Linked DNA regions of Homo sapiens: region 2 is linked to region 1. Evidence: fine-mapped expression QTL. A gene starts in region 1. The other region holds a variant in brackets. All regions are shown on one strand. Distances are between the middles of the regions.

Region 1 (16,619 bases):
TTGAGCCCTAAAGTTCAAGACCATCCTGAGCAACAAAAGGAGACCTTTATTCTATAAAAAAAATTTTTTTTAATTAGCCAGGCGTGGTGGCATGTGCTTGGAGGATCACTTGAGCCCGAGAGGTCAAGGCTGCAGTGAGCCATGATGGTGTCACTGCACTCCAGCCTGGGTGACAGATATCCTGTTTCAAACTAATTAATTAAATAAATAAAATAAAATGATATCAGGTGGAAATAGAAATTTACATAAAGAAGTGAAAAACACTGGATGCATTAGGCAAATTAAAATATTTTTCTTATTATTTAAATCTCTTTAAAAGATATTTAAAATGCTTAAACAAAAAAATAAAAATGTAGTGTAGGATTAATAACATATGTAAAGAAAAATGTATGACAATAATAGTACAAGCACTAGGAGGGGAGAAATGGAAGTATATCAATATCACTTGAAGGTAGGCTATGCTAGGTTAAAGATGCATACTCTAAACCCTAAATTAACCACTAAAGAAATAAAACAAAGAGTTCCAGCCAACAAAAGCAATAAAACACATGAAAATACTCAATTTAAATACTTAATTTAAAAAAGCAAAAAAGAGGAAAAAGGGAACAAGGAACAGACGGGACAAACAATGTATAGCAAAATCTAACCATATCAATAATCACATCAAATGTAAACACTCCAGTCAAATGATAGAAGTTGTCAGAATAGATAAGACTCAATATATGCTGTGCACAAAAACCCCACTTAAATATTAAGACACAAATATGCCAAAACTAAAAGGGTGAACAAAGGTATACTATGCTAACACTAATCAGAAGAAAGCTGGAGTGACTACATTAATATCAGACACAGTATATTTCAGAGCAAAGAATATTACCTGCGATAAAGAAGTTCATTTAATAATGATAAAAGTGGGCCGGGTGCAGTGGTTCATGCCTATAATCCCAGCACTTTGGGAGGCTGAGACGGGCGGATCACGAGGTCAGAAGATCGAGACCATCCTGGCTAACACGGTGAGACCCTGTCCCTACTAAAATTACAAAAAAAAAAATCAGCCGGGCGTGGTGGTAGGCGCCTGTAGTCCCAGCTACTTGGGAGGCTGAGGCAGGAGAATGGCGTGAACCCAGGAGGCGGAGCTTGCAGTGAGCCGAGATTGCACCACTGCACTCCAGCCTGGGCGACAGAGAGAGACTCCGTCTCAAAAAAAAAAAAAAAAAAATTATAAAAGTGTCAATTGATCAAGTGGGTATAAAAGTCCTAAATGTTTATGCACCTAATAACAGAGCTTCAAAATACACAAAGTAAAAATGGATAGAATTTAATGAGAAACAGGAAGATCCACAATTATAGTCAGAGATTTCAATACCCTCTTCTCAATAAATTATAGAACACATAAACAGAAAAATCTGTGAGGATACAGAAAACTTCAATAACACTATTAAGTAATTTTTTCCAATTGACAGTTACAGAACGCTCTACCCAAAACAGCAGATTGCAAATTATTTTTAAGTGCACATGAAACATTTACCAAGACAAACCATATTCCAGGCCATAAACCAACTCTTACTAAGTTTGAAAGAACTTAAATAATACAAAGTATGTTCTCTGACTGCAACAGAATTATTTTAGAAATCAATAACAGAAATTTCGATGGTTCAATGTATACAAGACCTCAAAATATTAGGAAACTAACACGCTTCTTAATAACCCATGGATCACTTTTAATAGTTTTAATGCTCCTAGGGTAGATACTCAGGAATGGGATTGCTGGGTCATATGGTAAATATATGTTTAAAATATTTTACATACATATTAGAATGGCTAAAATAAAAAAAATAGTGCCAGGTGTGGCAGCTCATGCCTGTAATCCAAGCACTTTGGGAGGCCAAGGTGGGAAGATTGCTTGAGGCCAGGAGTCTGACACCAGTCTAAGCAACACAGTGAGACCCCATCTCTACAAGGAATTTTAAAAAACCACTGGGGTGGGGGTGGCGTGCACCTCAGTCCCAGGTGAGGTAGGAGGATTGCTTGAGCCAGGGAGGTCAAGGCTGTAGTGAGCTGTGATCATGCCACTGCACTACAGCCTGAGTAACAGAGTGAGACTTTGTCTCTAAAAAACAAACAAACAAACAAACAAACTGACAATACTAAGCACTGGTGAAGATGCAGAGCAACTGGACTCCCATACATTGCTGTTGAAAATGCTGAACAGGACAGCCACTCTGAGAAAGGATTTGACAGTGTCTTATAAAGTTAAACATATATTTACCATATGACCCAGCAATCCCATTCCTGAGTATCTACCCTAGGAGTATTAAAACTAACCTATCATCCGAGCACTTTGGGAGGCCAAGGCAGGCAGATTGCTTGAGCCCCGGAGTTCAAGACCAACCTGGGCAAAATGGCAAAACCTCATCTATACAAAAAATACAAAAATTAGCTGGGTGTGGTGATGTGCACCTGTAGTCCTAGCTACTTGGGAGGCTGAGGTGGGAGGATTGCTTTAGCCAGGGAGGTCAAGGCTGCAGTGAGCCATGATCACACCACTGTACTCCAGCCTACGTGACAGAGTGAGGCCCTGTCTCAAACAAAAACAACCACCACCACCACCACCACCACCAATGTAAGTTCACACAAAAACCTCTACACAAATGTTTATGACAGCTCTACTTATAATTGTCAAAAATGGGAAACAATCCAAATGTCCTTCAACAGGTTTATCAATGGATAAACAAACTGTGGTATATCCATATAATAGAATACTAATCAGTAATAAAAAGCAAAAAACTACTGATCCACACAACAACATGGATGAATCTCAAAGACATTATGATGAGTGAAAGAAAACAGTCTCAAAATTTATATGCAGTCCAATTCCATTTATACAGCATTCTCAAAAATGCAAACTGAGTAATGGGGAACAGATCAGTGTTTGTCAAGAGTTATAAGCAGGGAAGGGTGTTATTCAAAAAGGACAGCATGGCTGGGCATGGTGGCTCATGTCTGTAATCTCAGCACTTTGGGGGGCCAAGGCGGGTGAATCACTTGAGGTCAGGAGTTCAAGACCAGCCTGGGCAACATGGCAAAACCCCACCTCTACTAAAAATACAAAAATAAGCTGGGTGTGGTGGTGTGTGCCTGTAATTCCAGCTACTCAGGAGGCTGAGGACCAATAATCGCTTGAATCTGGGAGGCAAAGGTTGCAGTGAGCTGAGATTGTGCCATTGCACTCCAGCCTGGGTGACGGAGTGAGGCTCTGTCTCAAAAAAAAAAAAAAAAAAAAAGGACAGCATGAGGGAGTTTTTTGGAGTGATGGAACTACTTCATCAGTGGAAAGAAAAACATAAAGCTGTCTTTATCTCCAGATGATATGCTTATATAGGAAATCTGAGGAAATCTACAAAAACATTTTCTAGAACTAATAAATGAGGAGAGCAAGGTGGTAAGATACAAGTTCAATATACAAAAACTGATTGTATTTCTATGTACTGGCAATAACAAACCAAACATTGAAATAAAAATACCATTTACAACAGTATCAAAAACATGAACTACTTAGGGATAAATCTGACAAAAGATATATAAAACCTGTATCCTGGGCTAGGCAAGGTGGCTTGCACCTGTAATTCTAGCAGCTCAGCAGGCTGAGGTGAGAGGATTGCTTTGAGTCCAGGAGTTCAAGGTTGCAGTGAGCTATGATCATGTTGCTGCACTCCAGTTTGGGCAATACAGCGAAACTCCCTCTCTAAAAAACACCCACCCACATACTGAAAACTATAAAATATTGCTGACAGAAATTAAAGAAGACCTAAATAAATGGAGAGTGTGATACCTTATTTATGAGTTGGAAGACTCAATTTTGTTAAAATGTCAATTCTTTTCAAATTCATGTACAAATTCAACACAATCCCTATGATAATCCCAGGTGGCTTTTTTTTTTCCAGAAATTAAGAAGCTAACTTTACAACTCATAATTGGAGGACTAACACTACTTAATTTCAAGACTTATCACAAAGTTACAATATTCAAGACAGTGTGGTATTGGTATCAAAATAAACAAACAGATCAATGAAATCAAATAGGGAGTCCTAAATTAGATGCAAACATATATGGAGAACTTATTTTTGACACAAGCACAAAGACAATTCGGTGGAAAAAGGATATTCTTTTCAGCAAATAATGCTGGAGCAATTAGATATCTATATAGGAAAAAAATGAATGCCGATCCATACCTTGCACCATATGCAAAAATTAACTCAAAGTAAAATCATACACCTAAATGTAAAACTGAAAACTATAAAACTTCTAGAAGAAAACTTTGGCAATCTTCTCTTAGACAAAGATTTCCTAGATATGACATTAAAGTATAACCTAAAAAGAACAAACTGGTCATTTAAACCTTTTCAAAAATAAACTTGTGTTTCTTCAAAACACACTGTTAAGAGAATAAAAGGTAATCCTCAGATGGGGAGAAAATATATGTGCAAGTCACTTATCTGATAAAGTACTTTTGTCCAGAGTATTTTTAAAACTCTCAAAACTCAGTAATAAAAGAAGTAACCCGGCCGGGTGCAGTGGCTCACGCCTGTAATCCCAGCACTTTGGGAGGCCAAGGCGGGCAGATCATGAGGTCAGGAGAGCGAGACCATCCTGGGTAACATGGTGAAACCCCATGTCTACTAAAAAATACAAAAAATTAGCTGGGCATGGCGGTGGGCACCTGTAGTCCCAGCTACTCGGGGGGCTGAGGCAGGAGAATGGTGTGAAACCAGTGAGCCGAGATCGTGCCACTGCACTCCAGCCTGGGCGACAGAGCGAGACTCCATCTCAAAAAAAAAAAAAAAAAAAAGAAATAACCCAACAATTTTTAAATATGTGCAAAAAATTTGTACAGATACTTAACCAAAGAAGATATACAGATGGCAGATAGACTCATAAAAAGATGTTCAGCATCATTAGTCATTTGTGAAATGCAAATTAAAATCATGAGATACCACTACACGTATATTAAAATGCCTAAAGTTAAAAAGATAGACCATGAAAGTGTTGTTGAAGATGTACAATAAGAATGCTCATACACACTATTGGGAAACCAAAATAGTACAACTGGTTTGGAAAACAGTTTGGCAATTTCTTAAAACGCTAATGTGGAGGCCAAAGCAACTCCATCTTAGATGCTAATCCTCCATGTTAACTTCTGATTATCCCCAGTTCCAGAAAAACCTCTAAGATTTCCATTTGACTCATTCCTTGTGTAAGAGCACCACTTACTGTAAATATTGCCCTTAGGTCAAAACAACCTTGATGTTATCATTCTTGCCATAAATTCTGTCCTTAAGCAATTATCTTACACATTCCTTCTGAAGCACCTTTCTCTATAGCACAGAAACCCTGGGTCTGGTGGATAATGGCAGGGATCCACCATCTTGTCTTGCTCCTGAGACATGGCTTCTGTTTGTTTGTTTAAATTGTATTTATTTATTAAATGTTTGTTTCTGAGAAACTGGGTATGTCAGCCTCTTGCTTTGGCCTCTCAGCTTTCTCAGACTTTTAGGGGTAGGTTTGCATAGGCCTGTCCCCTGCAGGACAGTTAAACACATTATCTACCATCATATCCAGTCATTCCACTCTTAGGAGTGGTAGAAGGGAACTGAAAACATATGTCCATACAAAGACTTGTACACGAACAGTCATTACAACTTTATTTGTAGGAGCCCCAAAGTGGAAACAACCCAATGTCCACCAACAGGCAAACAGATAAGCTCTCACGCATTGTCAGTGGTAATACAAAATAGGATAGCCACTTTGGAAAACAGTTTGGCAGTTTCTTACAAAGTTAAACATACCATATGTTTCAGCAATCACATTCCTGCATATTACAGTAGGAAAATTAAAACTTATGTTTCACATCAAAATCTGTACTTAAATATTTATAGCAGCTTTATTTATAATGGCTTCAAATTAGAGACAACACAAATGTACTTCAGTGGGTGAATGGATAATGAATTATAATACATTCACATTGTGGAATAAAAAATTACAAACTACTGATGTGCACAACATAGATAATCTCAAATGCATTATGCTAAGTAAAATAAATCAGAAAAGAAAAGAAAACGCTACATACTATATGATTCAATTTATATGATATTGTGAAAAAGGCAGAATTGTAGGTATAAAAAACAGATGAGGCCAGGCGTGGTGGCTCACACCTGTAATCCCAGAACTTTGGGAGCTCGAGGTAGGTGGATCACCTGAGGTCAGGAGTTCCAGACCAGCCTGACCAGCATGGTGAAACACCATCTCTACTAAAAATATAAAAAATCAGCCATGCGTGGTGGCGCATGCCTGTAATCCCAGCTCAGGAGGCTGAAGCAGGAGAATCGCTTGAACCCGGGAGACGAAGGGTGCAGTGAGCTGACATTGCGCCATTGCACTCCAGCCTGGGCAATAAGAGCAAAACTCTGTCTCAAAAACAAAAACAAAAAACAGATGATACACATCTGTGTTTAGAAGCACCCTGTGCTCACCTCTATCATCTAACATATCTCTGTGTTGTACTTATCAGTTTACTGTGTTCCTTGTTAACCTATTACCCTACGACTAGAGTTTAGCACAGTGGTTGGTATATGGCCAGGACTCAATAAATTCTCATTGCTTGCAGAATTGCCCTGACCTGGGCCACGTATTTAGAGAAAACTTCTGGCTCTCTTCGAGGCTCTTTCCTCTACAAAAAATGAGTAACCCATGGGGCCAAGGAGATATGCTCACCCAAAGCCTAGTTTCCCTCTTCTGGAGTCTAGACCATGTTCAGGGTACCAATACCCCTGGAATTTACTGCCCAAATGACACCATGGCCTGCATGAGCCCTTCTCAGCTTTCACCTGAGGGCAGACCCAGCTGCTAATGTGAGCACTCCTCGATCTGAAAAGGTGGCAAAGGCATGGCTGCTTGCAGAGGTACGGGCAGACGTTGGATGTGGCTTGGAGTATCAGGATGGTATACAAGGCTCCTGGCAGGGAATGCAGGTGGGCACCAGAAACCAGAAAAGAAAGGGAAGTGGGAAAAGACTGGGAGCCATTTCTCCCCACACTGCCATATTCCAGCTGTGTTTCCAGGTATTCTAAGGAGTCTAGGGATTCTGAAGATGAACCTGGCCTTCTACATCATTATGAGGGTCTATTTGTCAATGTAGGAAAACAGACTATATTTTACTTTACAATTTGTTGCTTGATTTATAACTAAAATATTTAAACATACGGTGTGCTGGACTCCATTTGTACTCTTACCCAGGGCCTGCAAATGTTAGGAGCTGGCCTGACCAAGGGAATAAAGATTACGAAAATGTTCACCTTATTTTATTTTATTTTATTTTTTTGAGACAGCGTCTCGCTCTGTCGCCCAGGCTGGAAAGCAGTGGCACAATCTCGGCTCACTGCCACCTCCGCCTCCTGGGTTCCAGCGATTCTCCTGCCTCAGCCTCCCGAGTAGCTGGGATTACAGGCGCCCACCACCACGCCCGGCTACTTTTTTTGTATTTTTAGTAGAGACGGGGTTTCACCCTGTTGGCCAGGCTGGTCTCCAACTCCTGATCGCAGGTGATCCGCCCACCTCGGCTCCCAAAGTGTTGGGATTACAGGCGTAAGCCACAGCACCGGCCGACCTTATTTTGTGGTTATAGAGGGTACATTTTATAAAATTACTGCCACGGAGTGGGTAAGGCTCCTTTTCTTCAAGCCGCACAGAACGAATGTTCAGCGGTGCAATTTCATTGCAATCTATTTTTGCTTCACTTTGCTCATAATGACTCTTTTAGGATTTCCTCAGGTAACAATCTTCTTTCAATGTTCAATAATCCAAGCAGAACATTTTCTCACTTCATCCGCCTCCCATGCTAGGTTCACACTGTGAAATTGGCTTATCTCTGACCTAACCACTTCCTTCACCAGACATAGAGCTGGTGTAGCTCAAGGGAAAGAGGCACGGCGCTGGGAAATGATTAGGCCCCACCGTCCCAAGCAAGAGCTCAGGGGAGTTCTGAGGCTGGAGAGACCATTCGGGATATCACCCCGGGTTCCTGAGAACCTGAGATCTGCGGGGAGGCGTCAGGCATCCGGAAACGCCCGAGTCTGGGGAGACGGACCCCCTCAGACTTTCCTCTAGGAGACTCTACAGGTAAAGGGGAGTCCTGGGACTCGAGGGGAGCCCCGGCATCCAAAGGTAAGATCAGTTTTGCTCACCTGGCCGGGCGGCGTTGCGTCGCCTTGGTAACCACAACTTCCGGCTTGAACCGGAAGTCCGCGAAGTTGCTCTACAGAAAGTGTGCCCGCCCCCTCTGGGGCGGAGAGACTCAGCCCCTCCCCCTCAGCGGATAACCTGGGACTGACCGTTCCCTGGGGATCCGACGGGCCCCAGAGGACCCACGCCTGAGCCCCGTGCGACTCGTGGCCTTTGGGCTAGAAGCCATGGACGCCTTCACCCGCTTCACCAACCAGACCCAGGGCCGGGACCGACTCTTCAGGTGAGTCAGGTGCCAGCGGCCTCCGCCCCTTTCTCGCCCTAACTCGGCTCCCGTGCCTATTCCCCTGCACCCGGGAAAAAGGAGGTGATAGCCTAGTAGATGGAAGCAGGAAGGACGTTGCCAGCTCCTACGGAGGGAGTTTAGTATCCGAGCCCCTCCTTACCCTAAATTCAACGTGAGTGGGCCCAACGCACCCGCGTCCCGTCCTAGCCCCGTGCACGAAAGCCCCAGTGCCTGGCACCCTAGCCGCCTCGAGACCGCCGACGACGGGACACCGGCTGACAGATCCTCCTCCCCTCCTAACTTTGCTCTCCGGGCACAGAAAGATTGGTTCTCTCCACTCAACATTCTTCCGAGGGATCTCCTTTAAAGAGAAACTTTGGATTAGTATTTGTGGCTAGGGAAGCAAACCACTTGGTGTGACTTCAAATATCTCTCTTTTTTTTTTCTTTTGAGACGGAGTCTCGCTCTGTCGCCCAGGCAGTGGCGCGGTCTCGGCCCACTGCAACCTCTGCCTCCCGGGTTCAAGCGATTCTCCTGCCTCAGCCTCCTGAGTAGCTGGGATTACAGGCGTGCACTACCACGCCCGGCTACTTTTTGTATTTTTAGTAGAGACGGGGGTTTCGCCATGTTGGCCAGGCTGGTCTCGAACTCCTGACCTCAGGTGATCTGTCCACCTCGGCTTCCCAAAGTGCTGGGATTACAGGTGCGAGCCACCGCGCCCGGTCTCAAATACCTCTTGAAATGTTTGAGGAGAGACAGAAGTTCTCTTCCATTATTACCCAGGCTGTATCATTGAGATACTGCATGTGGAATAGTTTTGTAAATTGTAAAACAAAATATAGCGGGGATGAGACCACACCAACTGGATTGGGGGGAAATACAGTGGGGAGAAGCTCAGAAAGAACTAACTGCACCTCTAAGGTTCATGCTGTGCTACTGAAAATATTAAACAGAGATTGTGTCTCTTTTTCTTTTGGTTCCATAAGAAACGAAAAGAACTGAGAGATTGTATCTTTAATACGAATACAGTACTAGTTCATGATGTTTTAGAGATTTGGTTGATTCTTGCTTAATGAAAAAATATTTACAGTTGCAGTTTTATTTAACAGCTCTGCATTCTCTTCTGGGTGTGCAAGTGCTGATACAAACAGATCAATTAGAATGGCCCCAATAATGAGGCTTTTGGAAGCCATCTTTATGACAGCTATTGTTCCCAGTGTTTTGCAACTATGAACTTATATAACCCTCATCACAACCCTATGAGGTAGATACTCTAAATATTTTACCCACTTCAGATGGAGAAACTGAAGCAGAAAGAGGTTAATAGGTACTACAATGGCAGAACTGAGGGATTCACATCCACGCAAATGACTCCAGTGCCCACTTAACTACCAAGCTATACTGGCTTTCTCATTAGTTTGATAGGTTTTTTAAATGGTTACTTTATATACAAGCTTCATTAAATAGAAATTTCATTAAATAGAAACCTGTAATTCCAGTGTACCTAGAATGTACCCTGCAGGGTTTATCAAGGAAGTTGGTTAAAAAAATAATCATTTAGGCCGGGTGCAGTGGCTTACACCTGTAATCCCAGCACTTTGGGAGGCTGAGGTGGGCGGATCACAAAGTCAGGAGATCGAGACCATCCTGGCTAACATGGTGAAACCCTGTCTCTACTAAAAATACAAAAATTAGCTGGGCGTTGTGGTGGGCGCCTGCAGTCCCAGCTACTCAGGAGGCTGAGGCAGGAGAATGGCATGAGCCCAGGAGGCAAAGCTTGCAGTGAGCCAAGATCACGCCACTGCACTCCAGCCTGGGCAACAGAGCGAGACTCCTTCTAAAAAAAAAATAAAAACATTAAAAATAATAATCATCATCATTTAGGCCGGGTTCAGTGACTCACACCTGTAGTCCCAGCACTTTGGGAGGCTGAGGTGGGCAGATCATGAGGTCAGGAGTTCGGGACCAGCCTGGCCAACATGGTGAAACCCCATCTCTACTAAATATGCAAAAATTAGCTGGGCGTGATGGCACATGCCTGTAATCCCAGCTACTCAGGAGGCTGAGGCAGGAGAATCGCTTGAATCCGGGAGGCGGAGTTTGCAGAGAGCCAAGAACGCACCACTACCCTCCAGCCTGGGCAACAGAGCGAGACTCTGTCTCGAAAAATAATAATAATAATAATTTAAGATATGTTTATTCCAAAAGATCTGAGATCTCTAGCATTCATTTCCCAACCTCCTTGATGATCTGTATAACCTTTATGACCACACTGGCATTCATAAAATAATACCTTGCTTTCTGTGCCAATAATGCTCATGCAAACACGGTGAACATTCCTAAAACCTGTCAGACTGTAAGAAGTGTGGCAAGCACCAACCCCACAAAGTGACATAGTACAAGAAGAGCAAGGATTCTCTGTATGCCCAGGGAAAGCAGCATTATGACAGGAAGCAGAGTGGCTGTGGTGGGCAGACTAAGCCGATTTTCCAGAAAAAGTCTAAAACTACCAAGAAGTTTGTGCTAAAGCTTGAGTGTGTTGAGCCCAGTGAAGATCTAAGAGAATCCTGGCTATTAAAAGATGCCAGCATTTTGAACTGGGAGGAGATAAGAAGAGAAAGGGCCAAGTGATCCAGTTCTAAGTATCATCTTTTGTTTTATTATGAAGACAATAAAATCGAGTTTATGTTCACTTCAAAAATAAATAAATAAAAGTAATGTCTTACTGTTGGCCTGATCCTTATTATTAGACCAAAGCTCAGAAAGGCAGAATCATTGACATGACCAGTCCTGTAACCAGGAAGGACACTTAAAAAAGAGAAAGCGATTGTTTATGATTCCAGTCTTCTCTTTTTATTTCATTCCTAGTAACAAGTTCACTATTTTAGAAAATGAAAATGTACCGCATTTTTATTGAGAATAATATTTATAGCATAAAGGGATTCAAATGCACTTACAAGACAGTAGGAACCAGGCACCTACTTTATTAGTAGATTGCCAAATGGATTTGGATGTGTGACTATGTGATGTAAAATTTCTCCTACATTTATATTAGTAAGTCATTGTTATTTGTAAGCATGACAATAATCACTTTATTAAATATATAGTATTATTAAGCAGGATTCTGCCTGTATTTTATGTAAAATACGAATAAGTTTTGAAAGACAACTATGAAAACATATTTATACTAATTTATGTACTGATGTGTATTTGGTCCTTTCGTTTATAAAAAATTAAACAATCTTTAAACTGTGGACTTTTCATTTGGTTCTGGTTTGAGTTTGTGTCCTGTCACATAGATGGTAGGTTAAGTACATGGTAGAAAAGTTCATTTTAGAAATCTGAAAATCAGGCCAGGCACAGTAGCTTATGCCTGCAATCCCAGCACTTTGGGAGGTTGAGTAGGGCAGATCACGAGGTCAGGAGATCGAGACCAGCCATGACCAAAATGGCACAACCCCGTGTCTATTAAAAATACAAAAATTAGCTGGGCGTGGTGGCACACACCTGTAATCCCAGCTACTCGGGAGGCTGAGACAGGAGAATCGCTTGAACCAGGGAGGCAGAGGTTGCAGTGGAGCCAAGATCACACCACAGCACTCCAGCCTGGCGAAAGAGCGAGACTCGATCAAAAACAAACAAAAAAAAAACAAAGAAAGAAATCTACACTGGGGAAGAGAAGGAATATGGATCTTTGTAGACTTAACATGAGGGAGATTTTGTACAGTTTCTCACTTTGACTATATCCATTTCTCTGTGCCAGCAAAAGGCCTTTTGGAGGCACATTGGCTGCATTATTGCAGAATTTGTTTTCATTACCTTTGTGTTAAATTTCCATGACATGTTCTACCCTTTGGCTCTCCTGTAGAATGACTGTTGCAGAATTTTGCTTTTGTAAGAGTTGCTACATGAGAAATGGTCTTGGAAATGTTGTCTGGAGGCATGTGTTTCTCTTTCCCTTACTTCCTGAATTAAGTTTTATTTGGTTTGTAAATCATTCTTCTCAATTTTTTTTTTTCCATTTCAGAGCCACTCAGTACACATGCATGTTGCTTAGATATTTGTTAGAGCCCAAAGCTGGCAAAGAGAAGGTGGTAATGAAGCTCAAGAAACTGGAGTCCAGTGTGAGCACTGGTCGTAAATGTAAGTACCCTGTTTCTTGAGGGACAGTGACTCCTGGTTTAGAATCCTCAGCCTCAGACCCTGTAATTCACGGAGTAATTTCTAGGTCATTAATTTCTAGTCAATCAAGTTTATTGGTGAAATTGACCAGTAAGGCTGTCCTCATGGCACAACAGGTTTGAATGTGTTGCTGCAGACCATTCATAAACACCCTCTTATGTTCACATCTGGTGCTACACCTTATCTTTCTGCTGAATCATAACCAGTGAGACAGACAACGTGTTAGTTCACCTTTAGTTCTTAGAATCATAGTATGTTTTAGCAGTCTCTGACATGAGCTTCTGCTCCTGTGAGCCCCTTTATTCTAAACAAGAGTGGAATAGTTATATCCTAGACCACCTGCCTTTTTCCTTTATTGAGGAGTGCTAGAGGATATATAGGTGGATACATTTTTGTAGACCATGTTTGAGGTAGGTTTCATGCCAAAGGTAAAAAGTGAAATCAATATTTTGTGTTTATTAAATTTACTTTAATAATATGTCATACTGGGAAATCCAGTACTTTTCATAGCAATTGCCTTTCTGAGTCTTTGTTGTTTGATGAAAACCAGATGTTGCTATAGTAGGTTAGCAGAGGCATTAGAATGGAATGTAGAGCATCACATATTGATCAGTTGGTTTTGAGCACCTATGTTATATAGGTACATTCCTGAGCCTTATGGGAGAAGTAAGGTGCTTTAAATAATGATATATAAGATTTAGTGCCAAACTTGTTGGCTGAGGTAGAGGAAAAGAAAGGTGTTTTAGAGGAGGTGGAACTTGAGGTGAGGCTAGAGAGAAGGAAGAAGAGAGTTTCGAAGGGCAGTTTTCTCTAATAAAGGCTCAGAACTGAGTAAACCATTGTATGGGAGGATCATTGTCAAACTACAAAACTAGTTTGACAGATTTAAATTGTCAAGCAGAGGGATGGGAAGGGTAGGGCGAGCTTTTCTGGATGGCACTGAAGGCCAAGATTAGAAATTCTATTTAGATTATTTAGAATGTTGGAGCTGAAAGGTCCTTTAGAGGTCACTAGTCTGTAAGTCCAGAAGGGGCTTATCCAGGGTCATTCAGCCAGTTAGTGCAAGGGCCAGAACTGGAACCCAGAATCTATATACTAAAATAGTCATTACATATACTATTTTACTATTTTATGTTATTTTTGATAACATAATACAAAACATTCTTTTTTTTTTTTTTTTTTTTTTTTGAGATGGAGTCTCACTCTGTTGCCCAGGCTGGAGTGCAGTGGCATGATCTTGGCTCACTGCAACCTCCGCTTCCCAGGTTCAAGCAATTCTCCCACTTCAGTCTCCCTAGTAGCTGGGACTACAGGCATGCGCCAATATGCCTGGCTAATGTTTGTTTTTATTTTTTATTTTTTTTAGTAGAGACGGGGTTTCACCACGTTGGCCAGGCTGGTCTCAAACTCCTAACCTCAGGTGATCCGTGCACCTTGGCCTCCCAAAGTGCTGGGATTACAGGCGTAAGCCACCGCGCCCAGCCCCTTCTGAGATTATAAGTTTTCTGAGAGTAGCTACTTCTGAGCACCTCCTGAGTCTAAGGTATGATCCTTCAAGGAAAAGTACTTCTTTTGTATCCTCCGTGACATTTAGTACTATAACTCTTTCTCAGAAGGTGTTCAGTAAGTACCTATTGATTGATGCATCCCTGATTAATTGAATTACGTGCTCACATAAGGACGTGCCATTGCAATGGTTGATTTAATTCAACTAGGAGCTCTGTGACAATATTATTAATTGTTCTATCCATTAAATTCTACCATTTCTACTTTATCTTCTTGACAATAGGTAGCCAAAAGGGGTTTGGACCAGAGAAATGGCAAAATGATAATAGTGTTTTTTAAAAAGACAGTCTTTTGTCTGGAAAATAAATAAAATGCAAGGCATCAGACTCTCCAAGAGAGTATTGCATCTGGAGTTCATGTTATCATAGTACCTTCCTTCTAAAGAAGTGTAGCTGGTAAATAATCAAATGTAACAGTCCACACTCATGATTGACCTTGCCTGGAGTATGCCGTCAGTCAACATTAAGGTGTTCATTACAATGGAGGAGGTAAATTTAAAGAGTCACTGTATTTTTTGCCTTCCAAGATCACTTTAGGTGTCCTTAATGTACTGTAAAATCTTTCTCTTTTTCTGAACAAAGGCTGAGCCTTTAATGACCATCAGTTGTTAAAAAGACCAGTGCTAAGCTGGGCACACTGGCTCGTGCCTATAATCCCAGCTACTCGGGAGGCTGAGGTGGGAGGATTGCTTGAGCCCAGGAGACTGAGGCTGCTGTGAGCTGTGATGGTGCCGCTGCACTCCAGCCGGTGTGACAGAGCAAGACCCTGTCTCAACAAAAAACAACAAAAAGCTGGCTCCTCACCCTGATACAGGGATTCTATCTTCCTGTTGTGTACTAATGAAATAACTGTTCACTATTGTGGGTTCTACTTGCAGGGTTCAGACTAGGCAATGTGGTACATGCTATACAGGCAACTGAGCAGAGCATTCATGCCACTGACCTGGTACCTCGCTTATGCTTAACATTAGCCAACCTGAACCGTGTGATTTATTTCATCTGTGACACCATCCTCTGGGTGAGGAGCGTAGGTCTCACCTCTGGCATCAACAAAGAGAAATGGCGAACGAGGGCTGCTCACCACTACTACTATTCTCTTCTGCTGAGCCTGGTCAGGGATCTGTATGAAATCTCCCTGCAGATGAAACGAGTTACATGTGACAGGGCAAAGAAAGAGAAATCAGCATCCCAGGATCCTCTTTGGTTCAGCGTGGCTGAGGAGGAAACAGAATGGCTCCAATCCTTTCTACTTCTTTTATTCCGATCTCTGAAGCAGCATCCTCCCTTGCTCCTGGACACAGTGAAGAACCTTTGTGATATCCTGAACCCTTTGGACCAGCTGGGGATCTATAAATCCAATCCTGGCATCATTGGACTTGGAGGTCTTGTGTCCTCTATAGCAGGCATGATCACTGTGGCATATCCTCAGATGAAGCTGAAGACCCGTTAGGGTGTTTTTAGGCTTGGAACTAGTACCTACTTTAAAAGATGGCCTCTTGGTGGGACAGACATTTGTATAAGTCACAGGCCATGTCATACTGTGCTTAAGTTCTTGTTCATGTGAGCATTTAACAACCTGTGATGTGGGCAGAGATGAGGCCAAGAACGGAGAAGGGAGGAGCATGAAGAGTTGTATGTTTTTGGAGTGCTGGAGTGACTTGTGAATTTCTGAATATTTTCCCTTCATCTAACATTGATTGAACATCTCTTATGTGCATAGTGGGAGCTTAGTATTTGCTGAATGAATAAAAATTGAAAGGAAAAAATTTAAAAAGACCCAATCGCACTGATCATTGAACACCAGTATACAATAACTTTAGGGTCATATGGATCATTGGTTTCACGATTACAGTAGGTCTGGTGCATGGCACTCTCAGATCTAGTAGAGGCTCTGATGTCAGTAGCAGGATGGAGGAGAGCTGGGCTTACAGCCTCTCAACTTGTTGGCCCTTATACCATCACTGCACTCATGTCCTTGCTCTGTGCAGAAGTAGAATCAGAAAAGCATCAGGCACCTTCATGGTATAAATTGTGTCTATGGGTGCAGTGAATAAGCAAAAATCAGAAGCAGACCGGAGGGACTTATAAAAATAGGTACAGGGTCACAATGGGTGCCTATATGTAGCCTGTGACAGATAAGAAGCTGACAGTGAGACAAACAAAAAACTGAGGCTAGAGCCTCATTCCTCTGACTCCTAATCCAGTGTTCTCTCCATGCTCTCCCACTGTCTTCAGAATTGAGTAGAAATGTGATCCCCTCCTGAATCCTGTTTTTTGCCTCTTACTCTCCCATAATTTGGAAATTTCCTTGTCCAGTGGTTTATATTCTTTTCTAGAAAAACTAAAAC
Region 2 (16,619 bases), 25 kb before region 1:
TTTTCTTTTTTTTGAGACAGGTTCTCGCTCGCTGTGTCGCCCAGGCAGGAGTGCAATGGTGCGATTTCAGCTCACTGCAACTTCTGCCTCCCAGGTTCAAGCAATTCTCCCGCTTTAACCTCCCAAGTAGCTGGGACTACAGGCACAGGCCACCATGCCTAGCTAATTTTTGTATTTTTTTTTGTGGAGATGGGGTTTCTCCATGTTGCCCAGGATGGTCTCGAACTCCTGAGCTCACAAGCAATCTGCCTGCCTCAGCCTCCCAAAGTGCTGGAACTACAGGTGCACGCCATCACGCCCAGCTATTTTTTTTTGGTATTTCTAGTACAGACGGGGTTTCGCCATGTTGGCCAGGCTGGTCTTGAACTCCTAGCTTCAAGTGATCCACTTGCCTCGACCTCCCAAAGTGCTGGGATTACAGACATAAGCCACTGCACCGGGCCTGAAGAGTATATTTATTTTCTAAAAGCTTTACTGCTTTGCCTTTCATATATTTACTTCTACAGTTCATCTGGAATTTAGTTTTGTGTACGACATGAGGCAGGGGTTAAGTTTTATTTTTGTCTCCACATAAACAGCCACCACCACTTATTGAAATGGCCACCCTTTCTCCAGAGCTCCATAGCGCTGCCTCTGTAATGCATCAAGTGTCCATTTATGCCTGGGTCTGTTTTGGTCTCTGTATCCTGCTTCATTCACCTATTTTTCCTCTATTTTTCTATCTGCTATTTCTATCTATCTATATTTCTATATTTCATCTATATTTCTATTATTCACTTATCTATTTTTTATCTTAATAACTGCAGCTTTATAATAAATATTGATAGAGCAAGTCTGACCACCACATTCTTTTACAAGAGAAAATTGTCTATTCTTCGCCTTTGGCATTTCCCTTTTCGGGGGGTTGTTCTTGATTTTGAACCAGGGTCTTGTTCTGTCACCAGGCTGGAGTGTAGTGGTGTGATCATAGCTCACTACAGCCTCAACTTCCTAGGCTCAAGTGATCCTCCTCCTTTGGCCTCTCAAAGTGCTAGGGTTATAGGCTTAAGCCACCACACTTGGCCTCTCTTTTGTTTTTTTAATGGTTGCAAAGTATTCTTTTGTATGAGTGTACCAGATTTATTTATTTATTTATTTATTTATTTATTTATTTATTTATGACGCGGTTTCACTCCCATCTCCCAGACTGGAGTGCAATGGCACAATCTCAGCTCACTGCAACCTCTGCTTCCTGGGCTCAAGCGATTCTACTGCCTTAGCCTCCCAAGTAGTCAGGACCACAGGTGCATGCCACTCTGCCTAATTTTTGTATTTTTTGTGGAGGTGGGGTTTTGCCATGTTCCCCAAGCTGGTCTTGAACTCCTGAGCTCAAGCAATCTGCCCACCTTGGCCTCCCAAAGTGCTAGGATTATAGGCACGAGCCGCCGCACACGGCCCAGATTTTATTTAACCAATTATTCACCTCTGTACATAATGCTACCGTAAACATTTTTCTGGTTTTTTTTTTTAATCGTAACTACTAGTCCACCAGGGGTGAACATTCTTATAGATATGTCTTTGTGATCATGTGTGAATGCTGAGAGGATATCCTCTGTATTTGCCGCCTACAATAGCTAGCCTCTCTGCTCCTCTTGACCAAGTCCCTTTCTTTGAAACTGTGCCCAAATGTCCCTTACTCCCTAGCAAGTCAGTCGCTTCTTACCCTGAGTTTTCACAGCCCTTGATGGTCCCCATTGCTGTACTTATCACATCCTACTATGGTGGTTTCTTGTCATTCTCCCTTAGTAGACTATCAACTTCTAGAGTGCAGGAGAGGAGAGGTGTTTTACTCATCTTTGTGCTTGGTGCATTATGGGCATTCAGCAAATAATAATGAATAAATTAACACAAGAATGTAGGAATGAATGTATTACAACTAGCAGTCAAATGAATCAGCACAGAAATGTAGGAATAAATGAACTCAACCTGGCAATTCAGAAAAGATATCTTTTTCTCCTGACCTTCCAATTCTGTTAGTTAACTGTATGTAATACAAATGCATTACTTACATTTTTTGTTTTAATGTCTCAGAGCTTATGGGTTTAAAAAAAATTTCCTCTTCATAACTATGTTTGTAATTTTGATATCGTTGCTAATAAGTTGAAAAGATAAGACATGGGGAAAGGAAGAAAGAACAGATAAATCAATGGCAAAAGGAGAGAGATTTGAATCACACTTACCTGTAACAGGCTTAGGTGGTTTGATCTTCATTATGTAAACTGGAAGACTCAATTTAATGTCTCCTTTAAAACTAACATTTGCATCCTAAAACAAGGAAAAGGCATAGTTAATAAGCCAAGAGAAGAGAGGAAATAGAATAATTAAAAATACTAATTTTAAAAGAAGGTGGAAAAGAAGGGGAAAAAGAAAAATAAGAGGACAAATAGAAAGTAAATAGCAAGATTGTAAAAGTAAATAGCAAGACTGTAGATTTAAACCCAAACATATAAATAATCACATTAAATGTATATGGTCTAAATAACCCCAGTGAAAAGGCAGAGATTGTCAGACTCTATAAAAAGGCTAGACCCTTACTGGGCATGGTGACACACTTGTAGTCCCAGCTACTCTGGAGGCTGAAGTGGGAAGAACGCTTGAGGCCAGGAGTTTGAGGTGGCAATGTGCTATGACTGTGCCTGTGAATAGCCACTGCATTCCAGCCTGGGCAACATAGCGAGAGCCCATCTTTGAAACAGTTTTTTTAGAAAGGGCAAGACCCAACTATATGAGGTCAAAAAGAAACTTTGTGTGTGCGTGTGTGTGTGAGAGACAGGATTTTGCTCTGTCACCCAGGCTGCAGTGTAGTGGAACAATCACAGCTCACTGCAGGAGCGACCTCCTGAGCTTAAGCAATCCTCCCACCTCAGCCTTCTGAATAGCTGGGATCTCACAGGTGTGCACTACCACACCTGGCTAATTTAGTTTTGCAGAGATGAGGTCTCGCCATGCTGCTCAGGATGATCTTGAACTCCTGGGCTCCTGTGATCCTCCTGCTTCTGCCTCCCAAAGTAATGGGATTACAGGTGTGAGCCACCACATGTGGCCAAGAAACTCATTTTATGAAACACTATCTGAAACCATAGGGAAAAAGAAGAAACTCGTTATATTAAATATAATGACACAAACATGTTAAGAATAAAAGTACAGAAAAAGATATATCTTGCTAAAATGAATCAAAAGAAAGCTTGGGTGGCCATATTAGTATTTGACATAGAAGAATTCTGAACAGAGAATATTATCAGGAATCAAAGGGTCAGTGAATAATGACAAAACAATCAATTCATCTGAAGACAAAACATTCCAAATTGTTAAGCATCTAATTACAAAGCTTCAAAATACACGAAGCAAAAATTCGTAAGAGTGAAAGAAGAAAAAGATAAATCTACAATCTTAGAGACTCCTTTTTCAATAAGTACAGAATAAGTAAACAGAAAATCAGTAAGAATATAGTAAGGATATAAAAGGAAAAACAGAAAGGAGAAAAACTTGAATAGCCTGACCAATAACAGCTTTATTGGTCTTCAAACATCCTTTTCAAGTACATATAAACACTTACCAATATAATCCACATTGTGGGAATAAAACAAATCTAAATAAACTTAAAATGATTCAAATATATAAAGTATGTTTTCTGATCGCAATGGATTTTCTGATCACAACGGATTTTATGAGAAGCCCATAAAAAAAGCCAGCTGTAACATTTCCAATATTTGGACACTAAATAACATACTTCTAAAAATCTACTAGTCGGCTGGGTGCAGTGGCTCACGCCTATAATTCCAGCACTTTGGGAGGTCGAGGCGGGCGAATCACGAGGTCAGGAGTTCAAGACCAGCCTGACCAATATGGTGAAACCCCATCTCTACTAAAAATACAAAAATTAGCTGGGCATGGTGACATGTGCCTGTAATCCCAGCTACTTGGGAGGCTGAGGCAGGAGAATTGCTTGAACCCGGGAGGCAGAGGTTGCAGTGAGCCAAGATTGCACCACTGCACTCCAGTCTGAGCAACAGAATGAGACTCTCTCTCAAAAATAAAAAAATAAAAACCTACTAGTCAAAGAAGAAATACAAAAGCAAATTATAAAGTACTTTGAAATGAATGAAAATAAAAAAATCAAATTTTAAAGCAGTACTTAGATACAAGTGTATAGCATTAAATGCCTATATCAGAAAAGACGATCTCAATGATTTGAGCTTCTACCTTAAGAAACTAGAAGAGGAGCTGGGCCCAGTGCTCAGGCCTATAATCCCAACACTTTGGGAGGCTGAGGCAGGTGGGATCACGAGGTCAGGAGTTCAAGACCAGCCTGGCCAAGATGGTGAGACCCCGTCTCTACTAAAAATACAAAAATTAGCCAGGCGTGGTGGCAGGCACCTGTAATCCCAGCTACTCGGGAGGCTGAGGCAGAGAATTGCTTGAACCTGGGAGACGGAGGTTGCAGTGAGCCAAGATCATGCCAGTGCACTCCAGCCTGGGTGACAGAGCGAGATTCCATCTCAAAAAAAAAAGAAAAAAAGAAGAAAAAGAAAGAAAGAAATTAGAAGAGGAAACTAAACCCAAAGTGAGCAGAACAAAGGAAATAATAAAAACAAACTGGAAATCAGTGAGATAGAAAACAGAAAAACAATAGGGAAAAATATATGAAACTAAAATATTGTTCTTTTGAGAAGATGAATAAAATTGACAAACCTTTAGCCAAACTGATTAAGAAAAAAAGAGAGAAGACACAAATTACCAATATCAGGAATGAGAGGGATGACATCACAATAGATTTTAAAGACAATGAAGGGATAATAATGGAATGTTATGAACCACTTTAAGCCAATAAATTTGACAACTTAGACAAAATGGACAAATTACTCGAAAGACACAAGGTACAAAAGCTTGCTCAAGAAGAAATAGATAACCTGAATAGTGCTTTATCTATTAAAGGAGTTGAATTTGTAGTTCCACAAAGAAAGCTCCAGGACTAGATGGACACATTAGTAAAGTCTACCTAACATTTTAAGAAGAAATAATGCCCAGCCTGAGCAACATGTTTTTCTATAAAAATTTTTAAAAATTAGACAAGCATAGCAGCACACAACTGTAGTCTTAGCTATTTGGGAAGCTGAGGTGAGAGGACTGCTTGAGCCCAGGAGGTTGAGGCTGCAGTGAGCCATGATCATGCCATTACATTCCAGCCTGAGTGACAGAGTGAGCCCCTGTTTCAAAATGAAAAAAGAAAAAGAAAAAAATGTGCAAACAAATTGATGAGTAAAAAAATGCAAGTTTATAAGAAAATATATACAGTATGATGCCACTTATGTAGAAAAAAAATTCCATGAAACAAAACTGTATTTTTCAAAATAAACGTAAGATGTAAATACACACTAAAGATCTAGAAAACACACATCAACTGGGGCTGGGCGCGGTGGCTCATGCCTGTAATCCCAGCACTTTGGGAGGCCAAAGCGGGTGGATGACCTGAGGTCAGGCGTTCGAGACTAGCCTGGCCAACATAGTGAAACCCTGTCTCTACTAAAAATACAAAACAAACAAACAAACAAAAAAACATGTCAAGCTAATAATGGTGATTACCTCTGGAGAGGGCTGTTTATCTGAATTCCTTGACTTTTCCAAGAGTGATATATTCATATATTATTTGTACAATGTGAAATATAACTATTTTTATTTTTATTATTTTTTGTGAGACAGGGTCTTGCTCTGTCACTCAGGCTAGAGTACAGTGGTGTAATCTCGACTCACTGCAGCCTCCACTCCAGGGCTCAAGCCATCCACCCACCTCAGTCTTTTGAGTAGCTGGGACCACAGCCACATGCCACTACACCTGGCTAATTTTTTTTTTTTTTTAGACAGCTGTCTCCCAGGCTGGAGTGCAGTGGTGTGATCTCGGCTCACTGCAACCTCCGCCTCCCGGGTTCAAGCGAGTCTCCTGCCTCAGCCTCCTGAGTAGCTGAGATTACAGGCACACGCCACCACATCCGGCTAATTTTTGTATTTTTAGTAGAGATGGGGTTTCACCATGTTGGTCAGGCTGGTCTCAAACTCCTGACCTCGTGATCCACCTGTCTCGGCCTCCCAAAGTGTTGGGATTACAGGCGTGAGCCACTGCACCCGGCCATTTTTTGTATTTTTTGTAGAGGCAAGGTTTTGCTGTGTTGCCCAGGCTGGTCTCAAATTCCTGAGCTCAAGAGATCCTCCTGCCTTAGGCTCCCAAAGTGTTGGGATTACAGACATGAGCCACCCCACCTGGCCTAATGTAACTTTGAAAGGGAAAAAAGAAGGGGCTCTAGCGAGATACTTCCACTTCAGAAGTTCACCACTACTCTACTGACACGCCTGAGTCCTCCAAGAGCCATGCTTTCTGAAGACATGGTATGTTCCTGGTCTCAGAGGAAGAGCCAGGAAGCTCCAGGGAAACTGCTCTGTTCTCTAAGGTATTCCAAAACAAACACAAAACCCCCAAGTTACTCGGCTTGGTGAATTGGGCTGTTATTTTGGTAGAGGCAAATCCAGGATTCATAGGACCCTCTTTTAAGAAAAAGAAGACAGAACTATGAACACAAAATGCCCATGGCCACTGTAATTCCATCTAATATGGAGGAAATTGTGACAGAGGAAAGCTAGAGTGAAGAGGTAGTGGAATTAAGTGATTATGGTTACAATATGTTACCTTTGCTAATTTTACAAAAATATATAACCATATGAACACATTGCTAGGGCCCCTTCCAGGGGCCCAAGTGAGGGGCCCTGAAATTTAAGCTCCCTTAACTTCAGGTAAACCCACGTCTGGCCAAATGACTTGGGTCAACTGTCCTCAGGGACGGGAGGTCATCTTCAATGGATATGAGGCACAAGATTAAGTCACTGAGAATTGAAAATAGTGCCCAGGTGGAACATTTCATTAGCATATTTGACATTTAGGGTAAATTTCAAGTAAAAATCAAAATCTTGGGCCCAGTGTGGTGACTCACGCCTATAATCCCAGCACTTTGGGAGGCCAAGGCAGGCAGATCACCTGAGGTCGGGAGTTGAAGACCAGCCTGACCAACATGGAGAAAACCCTGTCTCTACTAAAAATACAATATTAGCCGGGCGTGGTAGTGCATGCCTATAATCCTAGTTACTCAGGAGGCTGAGGCAGGAGAATCACTTGAACCTGGGGGGCAGAAGTTGCGATGAGCCAAGATCGCTCCATTGCACTCCAGCCTGAGCAACAAGAGCAACAAGAATGAAACTCTGTCTCAAAAAAAAAAAAAAAAAAAAAA[G/AAG]AAAGAAAAAGAAAAGAAAAGAAAAATAATAATTTTTAAAAAATCTCTAAAATACAAACTTAAGTCTCTCTGGAGATTTTCTTTAAAGTTTCTTACCATTTCTAAAGGATCTGCAGAAATGGGACCAAGGGAGTTCTGAGAAGAAAAATGAGAAATTAATTCACAATAGGTTTGATGTATGTTTACCACCCCCTTTAATCTTCTGGCATGCTCTCTCTTCCCCTCAATTACTCTTGTGAGTGAATTCATGCAACAGATGTGGAGGGCCAGTATTTGTGTGGGCCTCTGGCCTGCAGAACTTCAACACACGATCCCTATTTTTCAGGATCTTAAAAGGTAGGTGGGGAAACAGGAAATAGTTAATAACAAGAGGAAATCTGAATGAATAGAGTTGAGGAGATCAGTCAGAACACCATTACAAGAATCCAAATTGAGGCAAATATTTCTGATTGGCAAAACATATTGGTGATGTTGAGAATTACATTTAAGTAACTCTAAATATAATTCGTAGTAAAAGAACTACCACTGTAACTGGCATTCATTGGCTGCTTCTCAGTGTATGAAAAAGAAGTGAATTATGGTGAGAAACCACCCCATTCAAGGTGCTTTTCCTATTTGGATAACAAATTAGTCCAAACAAAAATATATCTTTTTGAGTACCAAGTATGATACTATGGAATTTGTTGATAAAAAGCAGAAGGTATGATCTTAACAATCTAGAAATTTATTATCCATTGAAGACAAGAGGATTTTCATGTATAACAGGATAACTACAAACCTAGGCAGTATGTGAGAAGTGTCAAAAAATACATACAAATAATAACATTCTGTAATAGCTTAGAGGAGGAATATCTCTGGGCTAGTAACTTTCCCAGGGACATAGGACTACACTCCATTATGAAGATATTCACTGGCCATAAAGGCATTTATTCAAAGCCACTTGAGCTCAGCAGTGAATGTAACTCTCAATCTTGGTCTCCTATATTAATAATTTCACTAATTTATTTAGCACCTAATACAATGTATTTTAAAGGGATGCTCAGTTAATATTAATATATTAATGTTGGTGGTTTAAAAGTAAAAATAATAAGCATACACTGTATAAATAAGCAAATTAAGTCTTAATATTTACTGAGCAACTATATCTTAAAAACATAGCACAGGCCGGGTGCGATGGCTCATGCCTGTAATCCCAGCACTTTGGGAGGCCGAGGCGGGCACATCACGAGGTCAGGAGATTGAGACCATCCTGGCTAACACAGTGAAACCCCGTCTCTACTAAAAATACAAAAAAATTAGCCTGGCATGGCAGCGTGCACCTGTAGTCCCAGCTACTCAGGAGGCTGAGGCAAGAGAATTGCTTGAACCCGGGAGGCAGAGGTTGCAGTGAGCAGAGATCGCACCACTGCATTCCAGCCTGGGCAACAGAGCGAGACTCAAAAAACAAAAACAAAAACAAAAAAACAGCACAAGGCCCAGTCATCATATATAAATAAACTGAAATGGTAGAGTTTCTACTTTCTAAGGATAATAGAAAATATATATATATTTCTGTATATTGAGAACAACCTCTTTATACCATAGTCTGGAAAAATTTAATGGAATTTGAGGCATGAAAAGATTATTTCAGCCAGGAGGGAAAAAAAGATTACCAGTGAAGCAGGAGTCAGGACAAAAGACCCTCCTTCCAGAGAAATGCCTGGGAGTGGTCTCAGTGGAGAGGCAACTCCCAGACTAGAGATACTGCGATTCCCACTACTGAAGACACCTCTACTTTTTAATATCTTATTTTAACCAAAGGAAATTGACTTGGGAGACAGGGGCCAATATTCCTGTTGTCCTCTCTTATAGCCCAGAGGCCTCATTCACCATAAGTTTCCAAGGACTTGGGCTAGATGTGGGTCAGGGGTAGGGAGAAACATATCAGCTGAAAGCAGAGATATTTCCTACCAGTTGCGGCTGTCTGACTTTTTTCTTTGGATTTGAAGTGAGTTGGGGGTGCTCTAGTTTCTTGAGCCAAGTCTCCTTGGGCAATTTATACACATCCAGCCAAATATCTCCGGCTCCTGCATTGGGAAACCAGAGAACCATTGAGCAACTGTAAGAGAGCCACAAGTTTCCTCTGAGAAATGGCCTGTCTTCTTCTTAGAACTGCTGGCAAAGAGACCAGCCACCTCCATACCAGGCAACTTTGACATACTGAAGGAGAAGTAGTTCTGCAATGGTTATTGCAAGTCCTCATGCCCCACATAACTTTCCCATGGAGAGTTATCCCCTCAACCCACCACCACCTATCTAAGAGAAACAGGGGCTTCTCACACTAACAGCACTCATGCAACAGCTTTTTAACCAAATTGTTCTGCCCAGCCCCCACATTTTCTTTGTTGCAAATGGTAAATTCCATTGACATTAAAAAAAATATGGGGCCGGGCATGGCGGCTCACGCCTGTAATCTCAGCACTTTGTGGGGCTGAGGTGGGTGGAACACCTGCAGTCAGGAGTTCTCAGCCTGGCCAACATGGTGAAACCCCATTTCTACTAAAAATACAAAAATTAGCCGGGCATGGTGATGTGTACACCTGTAATCCCAGCTACTCGGGAGGCTGAGGTGGGAGAATCACTTGAACCCAGTGGGTGGAGGTTGCAGTGAGCCGAGATCAGGCCGTTACACTCCAGCCTGGGCAACAGAGTGAAACTCCATCTCAAAAAAAAAAAGAAATGCTTCATGAATTTGTGTGTCATCCTTGCAGAGGGGCCATGCTAATCGTCTCTGTATCGTTCCAGTTTTAGTATATGTGCTGCTGAAGTGATCACATCCACTGACATTTTGCCTTCAGTTTTACCTGTCTGGGGAGGAGGGCAGCAAATACAGAATCAGCAACTGAGAGAAGTGTGTCTGAGGAAGGGTTAGAATTGGGAAAGATGTACCTAAAGAATTCTTCTGACCAATATTTGAGGAGATAACAACCCATGGGTTGGCTGTGGGACTTTATCTTGTCAAAGAAACATGCTCAGCTTCTATAGCAAATATATGTTAACCTAGGAAAGGTTGTTCTCCCATGGTATGGGATCCTGGCTAAATTTTTTTCTTAAAAAGTAATCTTCTGGTCACCTTAATTTCACACTTCTGGCCTCTAGGACTCTGAGGGAATAAATATCTATTGTTTTAAGCTGCCCAGTTTGTGGTACTTTGTTATGACAGGCTCAGGAAACCAATACAGATGGTGCACAAGTTTCCTTGAATACACAAAGCATTATACAATGCATATCCTTCGCCAGGCGTGGTGGCTCATGCCTGTAATCCTAGCACTTTCAGAGGCCGAGGCGGGCGGATCACCTGAGCTCAGGAGTTCGAGACCAGCCTGGCCAACATGGTGAAACCCCGTCTCTACTAAAAATATAAAAATTAGCCGGGCATGCTTGTAGGTACCTGTAATCCCAGCTACTTGGCAGGCTGAGGTGGGAGAATCGCTTGAACCTGGGAAGCAGAGGTTACAGTGAGCCGAGATCATGCCACTGCACTCCAGCCTGGGTGACAGAGCAAGACTCCTTCTCAAAAAAAAAACAAAATAAAATGCATATGTTCCTCAAATACCTGACATTGGAGGGGGCTTGGACAAGAGTATAAAATAGAGGCCAATATACCATGTATCTAAATATTTAAAGGTTAAAAATCAAGGCAACAAGCATTTGAATAAAATATGTTCTATTGTCCCAGTGATAACTGCAGCAGGCAAGATCCAATGATGAGTGCTGAGATTGGTGGGTAAAACATTAAAGAGAAACAGCACATCAGCATCCTCTCAAAGTATCTCCCTCAAGGTGTTTATTAATTACTGTGGTGGTTTTAACACATGTCCAAAAATTCTTTGATTCTCTTACCTCCAGGAGACGATACTTTTTTTTTTTTTTTTTTTTTTTAAGATGGAGTTTCGCTCTTTGTTGCCCAGGCTGGAGTGCAATGGCACGATCTCGGCTCACTGCAACTCCGCCTCCCAGGTTCAAGCGATTTTCCTGTCTCAGCCTCCCCAGTATCTGGGATTACAGGTGCCCACCACCACGTCTGGCTAATTGTTGTATTTTTAGTAGAGACGGGTTTCACCATGTTGGCCAGGCTGGTCTTGAACTCCTGACCTCAGGTGATCCGCCTGCCTTGGCCTCCCAAAGTGCTGGAATTACAGGCGTGAGCCACCGCGCCTGGCCAGGAGGTGGTACTTCTATCATTTTCCCTTGAGTGTGGTCTGGATGTAGTGACTTGCTCCTTACAGAGGATGGGAAGGGGAAAACAGTAGCTCTACAGTGGAGAAACCTGGCGGACACCACTTGAAGTGATCAAGGTTAGTATTAGCAGTAGTGAGTCATGCTGCTATCATGTACCCCTTGATATGATGCAATGAGAAAAGCTTGTCACCTCTGTTGTATCTTCCCCCAAATCCTTAACCCCAGTTGAATTATGAGAAAAATATCAGACAAGCTGAAATTGAGGGACATTCTACAAAATACCTGACTGGTACTCTTTAAGGCCTTGAAAAATGAGGAAAGGCCAAGAAACCATCCTAGGTAGGAGGAGACTAAGGAGACACAATGACTAAATATAATATGGTATCCCAGATTGAACTTTGGAGCAAAAAAAAAAAAAAAAAAAAAAAGATTAGTGGAAAAACTAGTGAAATCCGAAAAAAAAAATCTGTAGTTAAGAGTTAGTTAATAGTACTGTACCAATGTCATTTGCTTAGTTTTGACAAATGTGGTGTGGCCATGTTGAACATTAATATTAGGGAAGCTGGGTGAAGGGCATAAGGGAACTCTGTAATTTCTTTGCAACTCTTCTTTGAATTGAAAATAATTTCTAAATAAAAGGTTTGGAGGGACAAAAGCAATCATTTGGAAGATTGGAAGAGACTGAAAATTTGAACCTTAACAGTCTTTGGTTAATCTTGCCTTGTAGGAGGAAGGCTGCAAAGTCCCCTCCTTGAGAGATCTCCATCTTTATACAGGTAGTTTGCTTGCTGGTATCATCCTGAAAACAAAAGAGATGTTGATAGAGTAGGCATAGCCTGCTGACAGAGAATGTATTTCAGGACCTTCTGTGGTCTGCACCCAGGAACAGAGATCCTTTTAAACCTTGGGACATGAAAAGATGCTTCAAACTGCTTCATACTTCCCATTTTTGTACAAGAATTGGACAAGATGATATGTAAAGAAGTAGAACTCGCTTTTCTATGTAAGGTTTTTGAACTTATTTCCTGGTTTCTTAAATGCTCCTGGTGACATCTGGCATACTATTGGATCTCCTCGTCAGGTGTGCAAACCCTAAAGCCTATGCTGGCATCCAATTATTCAACTAAATGGAAATAAATTCTACATGACACTGAAAACTCTGGTAGTTGCTGGACAAAAGGCTCTATTTAGACTATGGTAGAGACTGAATGTAACCTTAGTATGAAACCTGCTCAAATTGTGGATAAGGTCAGAGGGGCTCAATGTGAATGGTTATGCTATCTTTTTTTTTTTTTTTTTGAGACTCGCTAATTTTTAAAAATTTTAAGAGAGACGGAATCTCACTTTGTTGCCCAGGCTGGTCTTGAACTCCTGGCTTGCAAGTGATCTTCCCAAGATGGCCTCTCAAAGTGCTAGGATTATAGGGGCATGAGCCACCATGCCCGGCCTAATGTATCTCCTAAGTCTCTTAATTTATATTAGCTCCCTCATTTGTTTTTCTGTTTGCCATTTATTTGTTGAAGAAACCGTGTCATTTGTCCTATGGAATTTTTCGCATTGTGAACTGGATTGATTGCATCTCCATGGTTCCTGTATTTCCTGTAAACTGATAATCAGATCTACAGCTTTGATTAGGTTTAGGTTCAATGTTTTGGCAAGAACACTCCACAGGTGCACTGTGTCCTTCCTACTGCATCATATCAGGAGGCTCATAATAGCTGGTTGTCTCTCTTTTAGTAATGTTAAGGTTGACAGTTGAGAACAGTTATCATCCTGACTCCTTTATTACAAACTTCCCCATCAGCCATTGGTGGTTATTGCCTAGACCATTCTTTGTAATAGGCAACAAAAGTAGGATACCTCAGTTCTATCATTCCTTCTGCATTTATTAGAATTCTTCTATAAGGAAGATCTTTCCATCATCAACCATTTTGTTGCCTTGAAATTGGTTGCCCATATGAAAAAGTCAGAATAAAAGCTTGATTCTTTCCCTTATCAGTTTTCAGAATACTGAGTTTCTGAAACTTCCCTCACAACTTCCAAAGTTGTGACAATAAAGTATTTAAAATATATTATCATGAATTAATGGATTTTAAATATTTTTATGTGTTTTAATCCACCAACAGTACTTTTTTTGTAACATCCCTGATAATTTGAATATCATAGTTATGCTGGTCTCATAAAATGAGTTGCGGGACATTCCCAGTATTTTTTTTTTCTTAGGAGAGTTTATTTAAAGATAAAATTTAAATATAGGTAAAGGCACAGGTATTAAATGCATAACTTGATGAGTTTTGACAAACTTATACGTCCCTGTAACTAACACCCTGTCAAGGTATAGGACGTTACCATTATCCTAGAAAGTTACCGTATGCCTGTTTGAGCCAACTACACTTCCATATGCAACCAATGTTCTGCTTTCCATCGCTAACACAGATAAATTTCGCCTGTTCTTAAGTTTCATATAATTTCATAATTAGAACCTACTCTTTTGTGTCTGGCTTCTGTCATTCAACTTGATGTTTTTGAGTTTCATCTGCTGCGTTGTAATCATCAGTTGTTTATTATTTATTATTGCCGATTAGTGTTCCATTGACTTAGTCTACCACAAATTTTTATTTGTTCTCTGATTATGTTTTTTTGTTTTCGTTTTTGTTTTTGTTTTGAGACGGAGTCTCACTCTGTCGTCCAAGCTGGAGTGCAGTGGTGCGATCTCAGCTCACTGCAATCTCCGCCTCCTGGGTTCAAGCAATTCTCCTGCCTCAGCCTCCCAAGTAGCTGGGACTACAGGCGCGTGCCAGCACACCCGGCTAATTTTTTGTATTTTTAGTAGAGACGGGGTTTCACCGTGTTAGCCAGGATGGTCTTGTTCTACTGACCTCGTGATCCGCCCGCCTCAGCCTCCCACAGTACTGGGATTACAGGCAGGAGCCACTGTACCCGGCCTTGATTATTTTTTTTTTTATTACAAATACAGCTGCTATGAACATCTTGTACAAATCTTTTTGTGAACAAATGTTTTCATTTCTTTTGGGTAAATACCTAAAAATGGGCTTGATGTATCATAGGTTTAACTTTGTAAGAAACTACCTCACCTGTAATCTCAGCACTTTGGGAGGCCAAGGTGGGAAGACTGCTTGGGTCCAGGAGTTCAAGACCAGTCTGGGCAACATGGCGAAACACTGTCTCCTTTTGTAAATGTCAGTTTAAGTCTTTTGCCTATTTTTTATTGGGTTGTCTTTTTATTACTGATTTGGAGTTCTTTATATATTCTGGATACAAATACTTTGAAGGATATATAAATATATATAAAGTATATATATATAAAACAGGTATTTTCTCCCAGTCTTTGGCTTGTTTTTACATTTTCTTATTATATTTATTATTATTTAAGGCCTTTATTAGCAGTTTGCAGTTTGGCTTTTTAAAAACCAGATGCTGCACTGATAATGCAATTAGTTCTAGTTATCTGGTTAACAGGCAAAAAATAAATAAATAAATCACCCCCACCCTGCCCAGCCTCAGGATCCAAGGCATTCTCAGCTGGTGGATCCCTTGCTTTTGTCTCTGCCACAGTGGGGTTTAGGATTTTCTGGACATCTACATCTGTAACTGAAGTTGCAGTTGTTGACCTTGTGTCTCATCTTGATTTTCCTTTTCCTCTTCATTGCTGACCTCTCTGTCTTTGGTGAGAAGGGGCCCTGGAGAATTGTGGTGTAGGATTGTGTCACTGGTCCACCTTGTTCTCCTGCACCCTGGTTATCAGTACCTCCATCACTTCTCCCTGCACCGGACGGCTGCAATAGTGTGGGCACCTGGCCGTCACAGCCACAATAGTGGTGCACCACAATAATGTGGGTACCCACAGGGTCGCCACAGGCTAGAAGCCCATGCCTGGGCCAGCTGTTGAGCCTGGCCTTCAGGAACACTCTCTGACCTTTGGTCATTTCCCCACTCTCACTGTTCTGATAATTCGGCTGGTGAGTGAGTGGAGGACTGGCCCTACAATGCGGACAGCATTCATAATGGTTAGTCTGCTGCAGATCTACTTGCCTTGCATAGGAATGCAATTAGGGCCTGTAACATTTGCGACCTCCATACCCTTCAATAACCTCAAACTCCATCTACTACACTGGGAAAGCACTTCCTGGGGTTATTCTTTTATGACTGTCTGTGTCCAAATACACCTCCTTGATGTCCTTTCTGTGGATGAAAACATAGCCATTCCTGACATTGAATCATCTGTTTCCGAAATTTTCATTGCAATGACGCTCTTGTCCTAGCCACCCTAGCAACCACTTCTTATGGTGCAGATGTGGGCACTGCTGAGGACTGGCAGCTGCTGGGTCTCAGCCTCCTTGCTCAGGGTAGTGGTGATGGTGACTAGAGCCAGCTGCGACAACTGTAGCTCCTCCAGGGTGTGACTGTCACTAGGACGGGTGGAGGTGGGGCTGTTCAGGGCTCTCTGGGGTCCGCTCTCTGCTCCTGCTACTGACTGAACTCTAATAGCATCTTTCGATGAGCAGAAATTTGAAATTTTTTAACAGCTTTATTAGAGGTATCATGACATAATAGCATGTTTGAAGTGTACAATTAGATAAGTTTTGACATATGTGTACCTCTTGAAACCAACACCACAATCAAGACAGTGAACATATCCATCACCTCCAAATGTTTCCTCCTGCCTGTGTTGTGTTGCCCCAGGCAACAACAGATCTGTTTTCCATCACTAGGTTAGTTTGCATTTTCTACAGTTTTATAAAAATGGAACCAAACAGTTATGTATTTTTATCTGACTTCTTTCACTTAACATAATTATTTTGAAATTTATACATGTTATATGCATTAATAGTTCACTCCTTTTTATTGAATAGTATATCCCATTGTATGGATACACCACAATTACTTATCCATTCACCTGTTGATGGACATTTGGATGGTTTCCAGTTTTTGGCTATTACAAATAAAGCTGCTATGAACATTCACGTACAAGCCTTGGTATGGGCATACACTTTCATTTCTCCTGGATAAATACTTAGGAGTGGAATGGCTGGATCACATGGTAAGTACATGTTTAACTTTTGA

Direction of the effects. Alleles are on the strand shown, and positions count from the first base shown. SD is a standard deviation of normalised expression in the study named.
As copies of AAG replace G in region 2, the expression in Th17 cells of the gene that starts at base 8,344 in region 1 goes up (large effect, 1.3 SD a copy in Schmiedel 2018).

Evidence for each region.
Region 2: its variant is fine-mapped to the expression of PEX11A in Th17 cells (Schmiedel 2018, PIP 0.91).

What each region holds. Positions count from the first base shown.
Region 1 is chr15:89,682,479-89,699,097 of GRCh38, reverse strand. PEX11A (peroxisomal biogenesis factor 11 alpha) reads left to right here and starts at 8,344. Exons shown (of 3, transcript NM_003847.3): 1 at 8,344-8,521; 2 at 12,552-12,667; 3 at 15,150-16,619. The coding sequence starts at 8,466. The coding sequence ends at 15,721. It overlaps WDR93 (WD repeat domain 93), which reads right to left and starts at 8,287. Exons shown (of 17, transcript NM_020212.2): 1 at 8,241-8,287. It also overlaps the pseudogene RPL36AP43. RefSeq lists an enhancer at 8,420-8,509.
Region 2 is chr15:89,707,740-89,724,358 of GRCh38, reverse strand. WDR93 (WD repeat domain 93) reads right to left here. Exons shown (of 17, transcript NM_020212.2): 5 at 12,255-12,333; 6 at 9,264-9,379; 7 at 7,410-7,448; 8 at 2,220-2,304. It also overlaps the pseudogene RNU6-132P. Among named protein-coding and RNA genes, the nearest start is that of WDR93, 25 kb to the right of the region's middle. The variant G/AAG (reference allele first, on the strand shown) is at 7,314.